Homo sapiens: one gene and its partner. The protein of the gene in region 1 binds, or shares a complex with, the protein of each later gene. Each region holds a gene or a part of one and is shown on either strand. Other genes may lie near its edges.

The links. The genes of interacting proteins can lie anywhere in the genome.
Region 2: the proteins of LLGL1 (region 1) and PARD6A are in contact, whole or in part, in a cryo-EM structure (PDB 8R3Y), measured with the Homo sapiens proteins. Residues at the interface, in NP_004131.4 of Homo sapiens: Lys657, Leu660, Arg665, Thr704, Pro705, Val706, Gln707, Arg708, Arg709, Ile710, Glu711, Pro712, Arg713, Met785, His786, Glu831, Thr850, Ala851, His852, Glu853, Gly854, Cys855, Arg856, Leu884, Lys906; in NP_058644.1 of Homo sapiens: His163, Leu169, Phe171, Tyr172, Ile173, Arg174, Asp175, Ser195, Arg196, Ile221, Lys226, Thr227, Leu228, Asp229, Gln230, Thr232, Asp233, Met234, Met235, Val236, Ala237, Ser239, His240.

What each region holds. Positions count from the first base shown.
Region 1 is NC_000017.11:18,221,818-18,228,645, reverse strand, and holds the start of LLGL1 (lethal(2) giant larvae protein homolog 1), read right to left. Parts: upstream 3,012-6,828; 5' UTR 2,964-3,011; coding exon 2,883-2,963; intron 1-2,882. UniProt on the Homo sapiens protein: Cortical cytoskeleton protein found in a complex involved in maintaining cell polarity and epithelial integrity. Involved in the regulation of mitotic spindle orientation, proliferation, differentiation and tissue organization of neuroepithelial cells.
Region 2 is NC_000016.10:67,656,315-67,663,291, forward strand, and holds PARD6A (partitioning defective 6 homolog alpha), read left to right. Parts: upstream 1-4,645; 5' UTR 4,646-4,724; coding exon 4,725-4,787; intron 4,788-5,140; coding exon 5,141-5,363; coding exon of another isoform or gene 5,364-5,396; intron 5,397-5,578; coding exon of another isoform or gene 5,579-5,581; coding exon 5,582-6,333; 3' UTR 6,334-6,460; downstream 6,461-6,977. Other genes in the region: CARMIL2 (capping protein, Arp2/3 and myosin-I linker protein 2), read left to right, coding at 110-331, 487-567, 925-1,002, 1,092-1,204; ACD (adrenocortical dysplasia protein homolog), read right to left, coding at 1,292-1,370, 1,448-1,539, 1,672-2,048, 2,241-2,327, 2,406-2,502, 2,614-2,765, 2,915-2,949, 3,061-3,105 and 4 more; ENKD1 (enkurin domain-containing protein 1), read right to left, coding at 6,847-6,977. UniProt on the Homo sapiens protein: Adapter protein involved in asymmetrical cell division and cell polarization processes. Probably involved in the formation of epithelial tight junctions.

The DNA.
Region 1 (6,828 bases):
CCATTTTACAAACGAGGAAAGGAGGTTACATGCACTGTCCAGCATCTGCTTCCCTCATACCCCACGTCCAGTCCATTTCTGAGCCCCATCAACTCAGTTTCAAAACACACAGAAGTCACCTCCCTCCCTGCTCCAGGCCCCACCGTCACGTGCCTGGATTGGTACTCACTACAGTCTGTTCCCACAGAGGCCAGAGGGATCCTATGAAAGCCACAGCCAGATCCTTGTCCCTCCCCTGCTCAGGATCCTCCTGGGGCTCCCAGCTAAGGGAGGCTTGTGCCTCAGGGCCTTTGCACCTACTGCCCCTCTGCCTGGAACGCACTTCCTCCAGCACTTCCTGTCGCTCAGGAGTAATCTCCTCAGAGAAGCCTCCCAAGGCCACCCTGGCTGCAGCAGCCGCCCTGGCCACACCTCTCACCCCCTCGCCCTACTTTATTTGATCCACAGCACTGGCTACCATCCCAACTACAGTCTATTTTACTTTTTTGTTTTGGCTTTTCACTGTCTCCTGCACAACTATATCAGCCACCTGAGTTAACAGGTATTTGTCCTTTTTGGTAACTACTGTTGTCCCCAGCACCTTGGAGACCTCACACACAGTGGGGCTCAGTATTAACAGAGAAGGCACATTCCACAGGCGATGTGTGGGCTGGACTGGGATTTGAACCCAAGACTCAGAGTCCAAAGTCCCTGCTCACTCCTGACCTGTCTCCCACCCCCTAAGCTCAGGAATCAGGGGCCTATTCCCTAGCGATCACCTATTACCCACTTAGGTGACTAAGTCCCTTCCCCAAGACCACCCCACTTTCCACCACTGCTGCCCACGCTTCATCCTCAGCGGAGGGCCCTTACTTTCCGCCACCCCAAGGCTAGCCAGAGTGGGCTGAGCTTCACCCCCATCTGTCTCCAGCCCCCACTGCACACCCCAATTCACTGGCTGAAGAAATGACATTTAGGCCAGGCATGGCAGCTCATGTCTGTAATCCTAGCACTTTGGGAAGCCAACATGGATGGATAGATAGCTTGAACCCAGGAGTTCGAGACCAGCCTGGGCAACATGGTGAAACCCCATCTCTACAAAAAATACAAAAACTAGCCGGGCATGGTGACACGAGCCTGTAGTCCCAGCTTCAGGAGGCTGAGATGGGAGGATCACCTGAGCCAGGGAGTTGTGAGGCTGCAGTGGACTGTGATTGTGCCACTGCACTCCAGCCTGGGTGAGAGTGAGACCCCATTTCAAAAAAAAAAAAGTGACATTTAGCCCTGTGCCTGTTGCTGCCTTTCCCTGAAGGGCCATTCTCCTCTCACCTCACCCTCACAGCCTCCCCGGCACAGAAAATAGGTGCCATCTGGGGACCACGGAGCACCAGCTTCCCTTCTGGGCCCCTCTCAGGTTCCTAGCAGGTTCTCAGCCACCGTGTGAGGGTCCTGGCAGCTCTCATCGGCAATCACTGCAGACCTAGGCAGGGAAACCCTGAGACATCCCAGTGCCTCCACTACTCCAGGTCCAGCCGTCCCAGAGCCTCCTCCAAGACAAGTGTCTCCTCAAGGCAGCCCAGGGCGCCTGGCACAACACTGGCCCAGGACCACAGCAGCCCCTTGGAAAAATCCCTGCCCCTCAAGGCTAAAATCCAACCCCACTGACACAAGAACTCAAGAAAGATATTGGTGCAGCTCACTCTGACTCCGGGCAAGCCGTCACCCCTCTCAGAACCTCAATTTTCTCACCTGTATTTTGAAGATAACTCTAATTTCGAAGAGCACTGAGAGGCTCTGCCATCAGTGGGCTCTGGGGTAAGAATGAGGACAAAACCAACGTCCCCAGAGCAGTGAGCCAGGAGTGGGCTGAGGCCCTGCTCTAACATCAGTGCAGAGGGAGGCGGGGGCTGAGGCGGCCCCTTTCCCTGGCCCCTAGTGTCCCACTCCGGGAAAGGAAGGAAAAGCCTCCACCTCACTCCACCTTGGTGCAGAAAGGCAGGACAGCTGGCCCATGTGGCAGAGGGAGCCAGGGCCCACAGTATGGAGAAAAGTAGCCTCATTTCACAGCTAGGGAAACTGAGGCCCCACGATGCGAAGTGCAGTGTAGTACACAGCCAGGCATGTCCCCTGGACTCGGAGCCCCGGGCAGGGCAGAGCAGGGCAAGGCAGAGCCTGGAGCAGTGGGGGAAGGAAGGAGAGGCTCCTTGAAGGGATTTCCCAGCCGCACCCCCCACAGCTGCCTCGCCCCCACTAACTCTCTCACCCTCCTGGGTGCCAAAGCACAAAACAAACCGGGCCCCAGGGCTGTCCCAAGGGCCGAGCAGGGACGCAATGGAGCCCCTAAGAAAAAGGATAAAGAGACAGAAGTGAGCGACAGAGGTCGAGAGACTCCACAGAGACAGAGAGAGAGACACGCAGGGAGAGACAGGCAAAGAAGACTCAGAGACGCACAGGCAGCAAGAGAAATGAGAGGCAGAGAGATAAAGGGAGACAGGCAGAGATAGGAAGGGGCAGAGGCAGAGACACCCCCACCACACACACAGGCACAACTGGGGCGAGACAGCCGGTCAGCGGCGGAGAAAGAGGGACAGAGACCCAGAGACAGGCAAAGAGTCTCAGAGACAGACCCCCACACACACAGACTGGCAGAGCCAGGGCCAGAGCGGCCCGCAGAGACTCGGGGAGCAGACACGGAAAGTCGGCCGGAGACCCAGACCCACCCAGAGTCCGAGCCAGAGCGGGGCCCGCCGAGGGGGTGCGCGGCCCGGCCCGGCCCCGCCCCGCGCCGCGCTGCATGCCAGCCCCCGCCCCCCGGGCCCGACGTGGCTCCGACCCCGGGCCCCCAGCCCAGGCCCCCGTCCCGCCCCCTCCCGCCCGAGCCCGGGCCCGGGCCGCCGCCGCACCTTGTTGAAGGCGAAAAGCTCCTGCTTGAGCTTCTCGCGCTGCGGGTCGGCGCCCTGCCGCCGGAACCGAAACTTCATCATCTTGCGCCCGGCTGCAGGCGCCTCGCCCGCCGCCGCCGCCCGCAGGATGCGCCGCGCGGCCCCGCGGGTCCTAAGGCGCGGGCGGGGCGCCAGGCGGCCCGGGCGCGGGCGCGCGGGGCCGGGCCTGCACGGGGGTGGGCGCCGGGCGCGACGGACGCGCCGCCCGACCAGTGAGCGAGCCCGCCGTGCCGCCCGCCCCGCCCCTGTTGGCCAGACAATGGTGAACTGGGCCCCCGGGCTCGGCCGGGCTCGCGAAGGGACGCCCGCCTAGCATGCGCCGCGGCGCGGGGCCTGCCGGGACTTGTAGTCCATGAGCCGGGGCTCCAGCGCGGGCGGCTGGGGAAGCGCTTTGGAGGGGGATTGGCGCACGTTCCCGGGCTTGGAGGAGACTTTTTCCTCCTCCCAGAGAGCGAGCGACGTGCCCACTCATGTAATGGGGCAGCCCTGTTCCGAAAGCCAAGACAGCTCTGACTGGAACAACTCCCTGGCCCCTCTGCGCCTCAGTTTCCCCATCTACACCATTGGTCAAGTGATTGCCAAGTTTATATTTTACCAATTTCACAGAACTCCATTTCGTCTGTTCCCCGCTCTGTCAGAGCACCTCCCACCGCCGTGCTTTTGCCTTGGCTTTGTAGTCAGGAATTCTTTCCTCACCCCCAGCCCCTGGGGAACTCCTACACATCTTTCAGGACCCAACGCAAAAGGCTCTGTGTCACAGCACAGGGGATTCTTTCTTAGCCAAAGAAAGAGACGGGATCCCCAGGAGGTGGCATTTGGGACTGTTCTGGGGTTGGATTGGAGCTTTACGGAGATGGGGGAAGGACCTCCCCCCGCAGAGAACAGCGTCTGAACAAAGCTTAGCCCTGCCCCTACTCTCAGGGGCCGTCTGCCTGTCCCCACCCACCTCCCAGGCCTTTTCTCATCTGGACAATGGCCTCGAGGCTGAACCTTTCCTTCCAGGCTGAGGATAGGCCGCCTGGCTCAGGGCTGGGGCTGCGGGAGGTCCTAGAAGCTTAGGTGGGGCAGGTAGGACAGGCCCCAACCCCACCAGCTGTGTCCAGGGAGCAGGAGCTGACCTCTGAGCCCGAGGCGGCTGCCAAGCCTTGGGGCCTGGCTGTCCCCCTCCACCCACGCCAGGCCGGCGGTGTTCAGCCCTTCCCCGTATTTGGGGCTGGATCCGGAAGAGGGCCCAGGAGTGAGTGAGGAGGTGAGAGGAGGGAGAATGACGACAGTAAAGCCCCTAAGTGTCTACTGCGGGGCAGGCGCTGTTCAAAGCCCTTTCCTGGTTTCAGCTGACTTAGTGCTGTCAGTAGCTCTACGAGGGAGCCAACAATATTACCCATCCCAAATGAGGAAGCTGAGACCATCAGCCAAAGGCTGTTAGTTGTTGGCAGAGCTGCTGGACTGAGGAGGATGAGACCCCTTTGGCCACTGGCCACGCCACACCAGCACAGGCAGCAGGGACAGCTCAGAGGTCTGGGTTCTGGTCCCTGCCCTGCCTCACACAGGAAGTGTTAAGAAGTTGCTGGCTGGGCGCGGTGGCTCATGCCTGTAGTCCTAGCACTTTGGGAGGCCTTGGAGGGAGGATCTCTTGACCCCAGGAGTTTGAGACCTGACTGAGCAGTAGGGTGAGATCTCATCTCTACAGAAAAAAAATAAATAAATATTTTTTTAATTAGCTGGGCATGGTGGCCCAGCTGTAAATTCCAGCTACTCAGGAGGTTGAGGCAGGAGGATGGCTTGAGCCCAGGAGGTTGAGGCTGCTGTGAGCTGTGATCGTGCCACTGCACTCCAGCCTGGGCAACAGAGCAAGACCATCTCGAAAAAAAGGCCAGGAGCAGTGGCTCACACCTGTAATCCCAGCGCTTTGGGAGGCTGAGGCGGGCAAATCACTTGAGGTCAGGAGTTTGGGAAAAACCCAGTCTCTACTAAAAATACAAAAAATAGCCGGGCATGGTGGCAGGTGCCTGTAGTCCCAGCTACTTAGGAGGCTGAGGCAGGAGAATCGCTTGAACCCAGGAGGTGGAGCTTTCAGTGAGCCGAGATCATTTGCTCTCCAGCCTGGGCAACAAGCGTGATAAATGAAAAAAACAAACAAACAAACAAAAAAAAAACGTTGATTCACATTCCCACTTTACCATTTGGAAGCTATGTGACCTGGAACAAGTTACCTCAAATTCTCTGTGCCTCAGTTTCCTCATCAGTAAAAATGGTGATAATATTAGTATTTACCTCAAAGGGTTGTTGTGGAGATTAAATGTGTCAGGGTAATATGAACCAGAGCAACTCCATCTTGAATAGGAGGTGGGTAAAATGAGGCTGAGACCTACTGGGCTGCATTCCCAGATGGTTAAGGCATTCTAAGTCACAGGATGAGCTAGGAGGGGGTCGGCACAAAATACAGGTCATAAAGACGTTGCTGATAGAACAGATTGCAGTAAAGAAGCTGGCCAAAACCCACCAAAACCAAGATGGCCACGAGAATGACCTCTGGACATCCTCACTGCTACACTCCCATTAGCGCCATGACAGTTTACAAATGTCATGGCAACGTCATGAAGTTACTCTATATGGTCTAAAAAGGGGAGATATGAATAATCCACGTTTAGCATATCATCAGGAAATGACCACAAAAATAGGCAACTTGGCCGGGCACGGTGGCTCACGCCTGTAATCCTGGCACTCTGGGAAGCCGAGGTAGGTGGATCACCTGAGGTCAGGAGTTTGAGACCAGCCTGACCAACATGGAGGAACCCCATCTCTACTAAAAATACCAAATTAGCCGGGCATGGTGGCACATGCCTGTAATCCCAGCTACTCGGGAGGCTGAGGCAGGAAAATTGCTTGAACCCGGCGGGCGGAGGTTTCAGTGAGCCGAGATTGCACCACTGCACTCCAGCCTAGGCAACAAGAGTGAAAATCCATCTCAAAAAAACAAAGGACAACTCTGCCTATGGAGTAGCCTTTTTTTCCTTTTTCTTTTCTTTTTTCTTTTTTTTTTTTTGAGATGGAGTCTTGCTGTGTTACCCAGATTGCAGTACAGTAGCACTATCTTGGCTCACTGCAGCCTCTGCCTCCCAGGTTCAAGTGATTCTCCTGCCTCAGCCTCCCAAGTAGCTCGGACTATAGGCATGCGCCACCACACTCAGCTAATTTTTGTATTTTTAGTAGAGACCGGGTTTCACCATGTTGACCAGGCTGGTCTTGAACTCCTGACCTCAGATGATCCGCCTGCCTTGGCCTCCCAAAGTGCTGGGATTACAGGCATGAGCCGTTGCACCCGACACCCAATCTCCATTTTTCTTTTTCTTTTTCTTTTTTTTGAGACAGAGAGACAGAGTTTCACTCGGTCGCCCAGGCTGGAGTGCAGTGGTACAATCTCAGCTCACTGCAACCTTTGCCTCCCAGGTTCAAGCGATTCTCCTGCCTCAGCCTCCTGAGTAGCTGGGACTATAGGTCTGTGCCACCATGCCCAGCTAATTTTTTGTATTTTTAGCAGAGACGGGTTTTCACCGTGTTAACCAGGATGGTCTCGATCTCCTGACCTCGTGATCTGCCTGCCTTGGCCTCCCAAAGTGCTGGGATTACAGGTGTGAGCCACCGCACCCAGCCAGCAGTCCCCATTTTTCAATGGGACTTGGTTATTAGGCAGTAAGCAGCCATGCCTTTCCCAACCCCTATCTCACAGTTTTTTGGGGAGCAGGGCAACAGAACTGAGTCGAGACCACAGCTAACCATAGCTCACCGTCCTATGATGGGGCATGCACTGGGGCTGTGGGAGCCCAGAAGAGGCATCTGGCCCAGGGTCAGTGTCCTGCTGGGAGAGGACAGTGCACATGGGTTGTAATGGGTAAGGAGTGTACCT
Region 2 (6,977 bases), on another chromosome or scaffold:
TGTGTGTGTTGGTAGTGGGAGCAGGGACAGGCAGGAGTTGGGTCAGACTGTTGTTCAGACCTATCGCCAATGCCTGACCAGGTCTTGGCTGACACCTTTCTCCCTACAGACCCTTCCTGCAGACCTGGCCCAGGGAGCCAGGGGCCTGAGTCTGCCACCTGGAAGACACTGGGGCAGCAGTTGAATGCGGAGCTCAGGAGCCGTGGTTGGGGCCAACAGGATGGTCCAGGCCCTCCCTCCCCTGGTCAAAGCCCAAGTCCCTGCAGAACCAGCCCCTCCCCAGACAGCCTGGGCCTCCCAGAGGACCCTTGCTTGGGCCCCAGAAATGAAGGTAGGCAGGCACCTGATTCCCCACCCCAATCCTGGCCTCGGGGCTGGAGGAGTTCCTGCTGGGAACTCAGCTCCTCTAAGGACCCTGAGGGTGGGAGGCAAGGGCTGGAGTGGGGGCAGCTGTTGGAATACCCCTGATTCCCTGGCCTCCCTCAGATGGCCAGCTGAGGCCGAGGCCTCTCTCGGCAGGGCGGCGAGCAGTGTCTGTGCATGAGGACCAGCTCCAGGCCCCTGCTGGTGAGGGGAGACACCTCCACGTGTGCTTGAATGCAGGAGATGTGGGAGGGTGGGCTTCTGGGGCTCCCTTCATAGCTTTGGTCCTTGGAGGGAGCCACCAGTGTGTGAGGTCTCAAGAAATCAGGGAGCCAGAAGACCAGGTGCAAGGGTTTGACAGCAAGCCCTTCCAACTAGCACTGGCTCCACTTCCCGAAGAGCAGCCTCTGCCAGGGGTGAGGACGCAGGGACGGGGGATGCTCTGAAGGCAGCAGTGTGTGTGAGTGCATGCTTATGTGCACTGGAGGTGGAAGAGAGGGGCAGGGGATGGACAGACCCCAAGCCTTAGCAACCCACCCCAAGCCTTTCTGTGTCCCTTAGAACGGCCCCTGAGGCTGCAGCGCTCCCCCGTCCTCAAACGCAGGCCAAAACTCGAGGCACCTCCATCCCCAAGCCTAGGTAAGAGGGGGTCCAGGCCAGCTGGGAGGGTGGCAGGACTGCTTAGCCCAGCCCTGACCCTTCCTCTCTCTCCCTCCCTCCCCTCACAGGATCTGGCCTTGGAACCGAGCCTCTGCCCCCACAGCCCACAGAGCCCTCCAGCCCTGAGCGGAGCCCACCCTCCCCAGCCACAGACCAAAGAGGCGGCGGCCCCAATCCCTGATCCTCTCCTCTCCTGCCGCATGAGATTATTTTATTAAAAAACTCAAAGGAAGCAGAGTGTGGAGCGGTATCTGTCCTGCGTGACGTCTCACATCGGAGTTGGCTCAGACCCTGGCTGTGCATCCATCAGAAAGTGCAAGGCCCAGGCCATGAGCTGGGGAGGAAGCCTGGAAAGAAACCACCGCTGCAGGTCAATGGAGCCTGGGACTAGTGACCAAGAGTTGGGGCAGACCCAGGCACTCACCTGACAGCTTGGACCCGAGCACAGAGGGACGTGCAGGGTGGCTCATACTCATACTGGAAGGCAGAACCATCACGATGCCTCTTTGGGGGTTCCTGAAAGGGGTATGGTGTCTGGGGAAGAGCTAACAAGGACCCCAACCCCATCCAAGGCTACCCATGCTCCCTCCCAGCTCTACCTCAGGCCTTCCTTGTTCTACCCTCCAGCTGCAGAGGGGCTATGCTCACCCAGACAGAGCAGGGCTCCTGGGCTCCCCTGGTAGCTCCGGTCCTGGGAAAAGGCGGCCGATTCTTGCAGGGCAACCCTACAAACTCCTTGAACTCCAGGCTAGGTTTCTGGGGCCTGGTCACAAGAGCCTGGTGTGGACTGGGGACATGGCTACGGGGTGAGAGACTGGGAGTGCAGCTCTGGAGTGGGGAGCTGGGGGTACGGCTGGCGTGTGGGGACCTGGGGGTCAGGGTGGCAGGGGCTGAGCAGATGGCTGGTGAGGGCTGGGAGCTGCTTCTCTGCCCTGGGTCTGGAGCAGCCAAGGACAGGGCAGGCAGAAGGCTGATGCTGGTACCACTTTCCTCGGATGACATGTGGCCGGGTAAGGCCGGGGTTCCTGAGGAGGAGGGGACTTATTGTAGGCACAGCCCTCTCCGCTCAGGGCAGCTGAGTGGCCTGCGAGCTCAGACAGGACTGCAGGGACCGTGTTCATCCCCCACCCACCGTGCACCTTTCACAGCATCCTGCGCAGCCCGGGAACCTGACTGACAGGCGGCAGTGAGTGCCTGTGACCTGTGCATCACCTCACCTGAGGAACTGGGTGAGGAAGGAGGAGAGGCTATGAGGGTCAGAGATAGGTCCTGCAGAGCCGGGTCTGGTGGGGGCAGCTCAGGGCCTGGGGGGTTCAGGAAGTCTTATCAGCACTGTGGACCTGGGCCCCAGGTATCCCCCCAACCTCTCCAGTCCCCCTTACCCTGTGTCCTCTGACAGGGGCCTAGAGAGCTCAGAATTAGCTGGTCATTCTCAGAGATGCACAGCATTGAGCTGGGGACAGTGTACACAGCTTCTCCCTGTGGGACATGAACTCTGTAGGACAGGCCCGTTTACTCTCATGTCCTGTGGGATATGACCCTTGCCCAACTCCTCACCCTGACATCTCCCAAGCAAATCCCCAGACTGACCGTGGCCTTGCATCGTGAGGCAGCCCAGTGGGTGACAGGGGGTGCTGTGCAAGGGCCCTCCAGTGTCAGGCAGCTTTCAGCCAGGCACACGAGTGCCCCCTGATGCTCCTGGTCCTCCCGCATTTCATCCAGAAGCTGGGACAGTGATAGGCCTGGGGACAGGGGACCATGGGATGAGTCAAGGCTTAAAGGGGAGGACCAGGAGGGTGAGGGGGAAGACAGCTTATTGAGGAAGCATAAGGTTAAGGCTGGAGAGATCACTGCACAGCGTGTTAGGATCACTGGTCAAGCTCTACAGTACCTGCATTGGACGAGGTGGACTCTGAAAGGTGCTCCCTACAGGAAGAGAGTGGCCAGGACTCAGGAACCATGCTGAGGCCTGTCTACCTAGATACACCATCCCCTCACCAAACAACACGTGGCCCCCGAGCCCAACCCCAGACTCACTCAAGGCAGTCATAGAGCTTTTTCTGAACATCTAAGTCTTGGTTGCTAAGAAAAAGAGAAGGGTAGTTAATGGGGGCCCAAGCCCTCCTACCCCATAGGCGTCTGCCAGCGCCGGCCAGGCTGGGGTGGGGAGAGCTGCTGGAGGGCGGAGGCATCACTTACCAACCAGGCACCCGTAGCCGGGGCTGCTCCGTGGGCAGCAGGCTGAAGCGGTCCACCTGGAGATAGAACTCTGCGGGCTGGAGGAGTTCGGGGGGAAGGGGGGGTCTCAGAATCGTCACGAAGAGTCATGCCCGGTAACCCGCCCAAGGCAGTCTCACCACTCACCGCGCCGCCCTCAGCGACCTGGACATGAACCCCGCAGTCCTGCAGCAGCAGCAGCCGGCCCTCTGTCCCGCGGAAGCCGAACTCCTTCTCCTCCCTGCAACAAGCAGGATCCTCACTGCCGGGCCCACCTGAACACAAGGCCCGCCCACCTCGCGCTCTCCTGCCGGACTCCGACCTCCAGAGCCGCGCGGGGCCTCTCACCAGTCCGAGGTGTCCAGGGCCTCCCGCGTCACCAGGCATCGGACACTGTGGGTCCCGTCAGACACAAGCAGCGTGGCCCCGACGTCGGACGTATCAGGGGCGTGGGATGGGCCCGCGACCGCGGCCTCGGCGTCCTGTAGTACCTGACGGCGGCGAGCGGCGTCAATCCCACCACCCCGGGCCTCCGCCTCGGTCTCCGGGCCCTGAATGGGGGCTCACCTCAAGCAGCTGCCCGGCTCGTGGACTGGAGGGTGTCTCTGACCCCAGAATCAGCTCCCGAATCCAGGGCCGTAGGACCAGCCTCCCCGAACCTGCCATCCCCACGGCTACACCCAGCGGATGCAACGGGCCCGGGTTTCCCGCGGGCGCCCAGGCCCCGCCTTTCCTCGGAAGAGGAAGCTCCTTCGCTGGGCGGGGCCGGAGGAGGAGGCCCCGCCCACGTACACCCCGCGCCTGCGCACGAGGGCGTCCTGCTCGGGGGCCTGTGTGCAGACTCCCGCTGGTCCACCCCGCTGGTGCACGGGATGCTGGCCCGTTTACTCTCATCGCGGCGTCACTCTGACAGCGGCCAGGCATTTGGGCCGTTCGTCAAGATTCCTGTGGTACCGGTAGGGAACAGAACAAGGGCTGGTCCCGTCCCTGGAGAGGGTTCCAGGGCCGGAGGCTGAGGCCGAGTGCCGTCCGAGCGAGTTGACTCGAAACCATTTCAGCACCGTGTGACCCCCGAACGGTTCAGCACATATTTATTATGACTCAGTTTCCTCATCTACACAGTGCACGGTCTTGTAAGGCCAGTGGAAATAAGAGCACACACACAGCGCTAAATAAATGGTACTTCCTTCGCCCTCCCCTCGGATTGGCGGAGCCCTGCTCCCCAGACTCCGGGGGCGCGCGGACCTCAGCGTGATGACGCAAGAGCGGAGGACGGCTCCTCTCCATCCACGGCTCCGTTTCCTAGGAAACGTGGACTCCGCGTTCCACTCTGCGTCGCTGCCCCCTTGACGTCACGCTCCGGATGGGAAGGCGGGGCGTGTGCTACCGCCAGGGGCGGGGCGGCGCGGGCGGGCCGGCCGGGCTGTGCACCTGCGCCTCGGCGGGCCGCCTGGGGCACCGTCCCCGGCCCGCCCGGCCCCGCCATGGCCCGGCCGCAGAGGACTCCGGCGCGCAGTCCCGATAGCATCGTCGAGGTGAAGAGCAAAGTAAGGGCTCCTCCGGCCTCGGCCCTAGGCGCTCCCAATTCCCTCTTTCTCCCCTTCCCAGCTCCTTGGTCCCCGCCACCTCTTCCCTCTATCCTCCAAGTCCCATTCTGCTTTTCTGCTCGCCTTCCCCCATCCGTCTTCCTTCCTCCACTGCTGGTCTCCAGCTCTCTGTGGCCTGAGTACCTGGAGGGCGGTAAGAAGACCTTGGACAGCGTCCCTGGTACTGGAGCTGAGGTCTGGGCTTAAGGCTGCCGCAAAAGCGGCAGCCGCATCTTTCCCATTCCTGCCAGCCTGCGGTGAGAAAGGGGCGCAGGCTGTCCTGACTCCTCCTCTCCCCCAACCCCGACTTCCAGTTTGACGCCGAGTTCCGACGCTTCGCGCTGCCTCGCGCTTCGGTGAGCGGCTTCCAGGAGTTCTCGCGGTTGCTGCGGGCGGTGCACCAGATCCCGGGCCTGGACGTGCTACTTGGCTATACGGATGCTCATGGCGACCTGCTGCCCCTCACCAACGACGACAGCCTGCACCGGGCCCTGGCCAGCGGGCCCCCGCCACTGCGCCTACTGGTGCAGAAGCGGGGTGAGGAGGGGTACAGTGGGCAGCCTCTGTGGGGTAAGGTGTCTGTGGGGCAGGTCTACAAGGGTTAGTCCATGCCCAGGGTACCCAAGCGTCACCCTCTGCAGTCCCTGCCCTTGGCTTGACCTCTAAGTGGTAGGAAATAGCTACAGTGCCCCCTGTAAACAGCCCAAGTCGGGGAGCAGGTCTCTGATCTCAACATCCCCCCTCTTCTGCAGCAGAAGCTGACTCCAGCGGCCTGGCTTTTGCCTCCAACTCTCTGCAGCGGCGCAAGAAAGGGCTCTTGCTGCGGCCAGTGGCACCCCTGCGCACCCGGCCACCCTTGCTAATCAGCCTGCCCCAAGATTTCCGCCAGGTTTCCTCAGTCATAGACGTGGACCTACTGCCTGAGACCCACCGACGGGTGCGGCTGCACAAGCATGGTTCAGACCGCCCCCTGGGCTTCTACATCCGAGATGGCATGAGCGTGCGTGTGGCTCCCCAGGGCCTGGAGCGGGTTCCAGGAATCTTCATCTCCCGCCTGGTACGTGGGGGTCTGGCTGAGAGTACAGGGCTGCTGGCGGTCAGTGATGAGATCCTCGAGGTCAATGGCATTGAAGTAGCCGGGAAGACCTTGGACCAAGTGACGGACATGATGGTTGCCAACAGCCATAACCTCATTGTCACTGTCAAGCCCGCCAACCAGCGCAATAACGTGGTGCGAGGGGCATCTGGGCGTTTGACAGGTCCTCCCTCTGCAGGGCCTGGGCCTGCTGAGCCTGATAGTGACGATGACAGCAGTGACCTGGTCATTGAGAACCGCCAGCCTCCCAGTTCCAATGGGCTGTCTCAGGGGCCCCCGTGCTGGGACCTGCACCCTGGCTGCCGACATCCTGGTACCCGCAGCTCTCTGCCCTCCCTGGATGACCAGGAGCAGGCCAGTTCTGGCTGGGGGAGTCGCATTCGAGGAGATGGTAGTGGCTTCAGCCTCTGACAGTCAGGATGAAGCCCCATGCCACTCCACACTGCTGGGACATGGCAGGGACTTCACAGTGGGGGTTTTTAGCTGGCTCACAGGGCTCCCTCAGCCTGGGGAACATTAAAGGTTTTCTACAAATACAGTCATGGTCCTTGTGTGTCCCAGTTCCAGCCTCCTCCCTGGTCTCACCAGCTTGCCTTCTGCTCTGGACTAAGGCAGGAGTGACATTGGGGAGAACTTCCTGCAATCAAGCAGCAGGAGGGCCACCAGGCTTGGCATTTTTAGGGTAAGAAAAGCTCTTATGGAAACAAATCCTGTGTACAAAATGTTTAATTTTGACAAAGCAGTTAAAAGGCTAGGGTGGCCCTTCTGCAGCCACTGGTGACTGGGAAGAGTGCTCTAGGGACACTGGCCACCCCCCTGCTCCTGTCTTCAGACCTCTGCTCTGGGATTGGGTCCAACCCTGTCCTTTGCAGCCATGTGGCGATCCTCAGCATGGAGCTCCTTGCCACTGTCCCCCAAAGGGGCTCAGTCGTCCATCTTCACGAAGACTTTGGGCCGAGAAAAGATCTTGATGGCCTCCTCTACCTGCACCAGCTTCCGGTCCAGCTCAGCACGGTGGCTCTGGGCTCTCAGTGAGTCTGCCCCAGCAGGCAGCA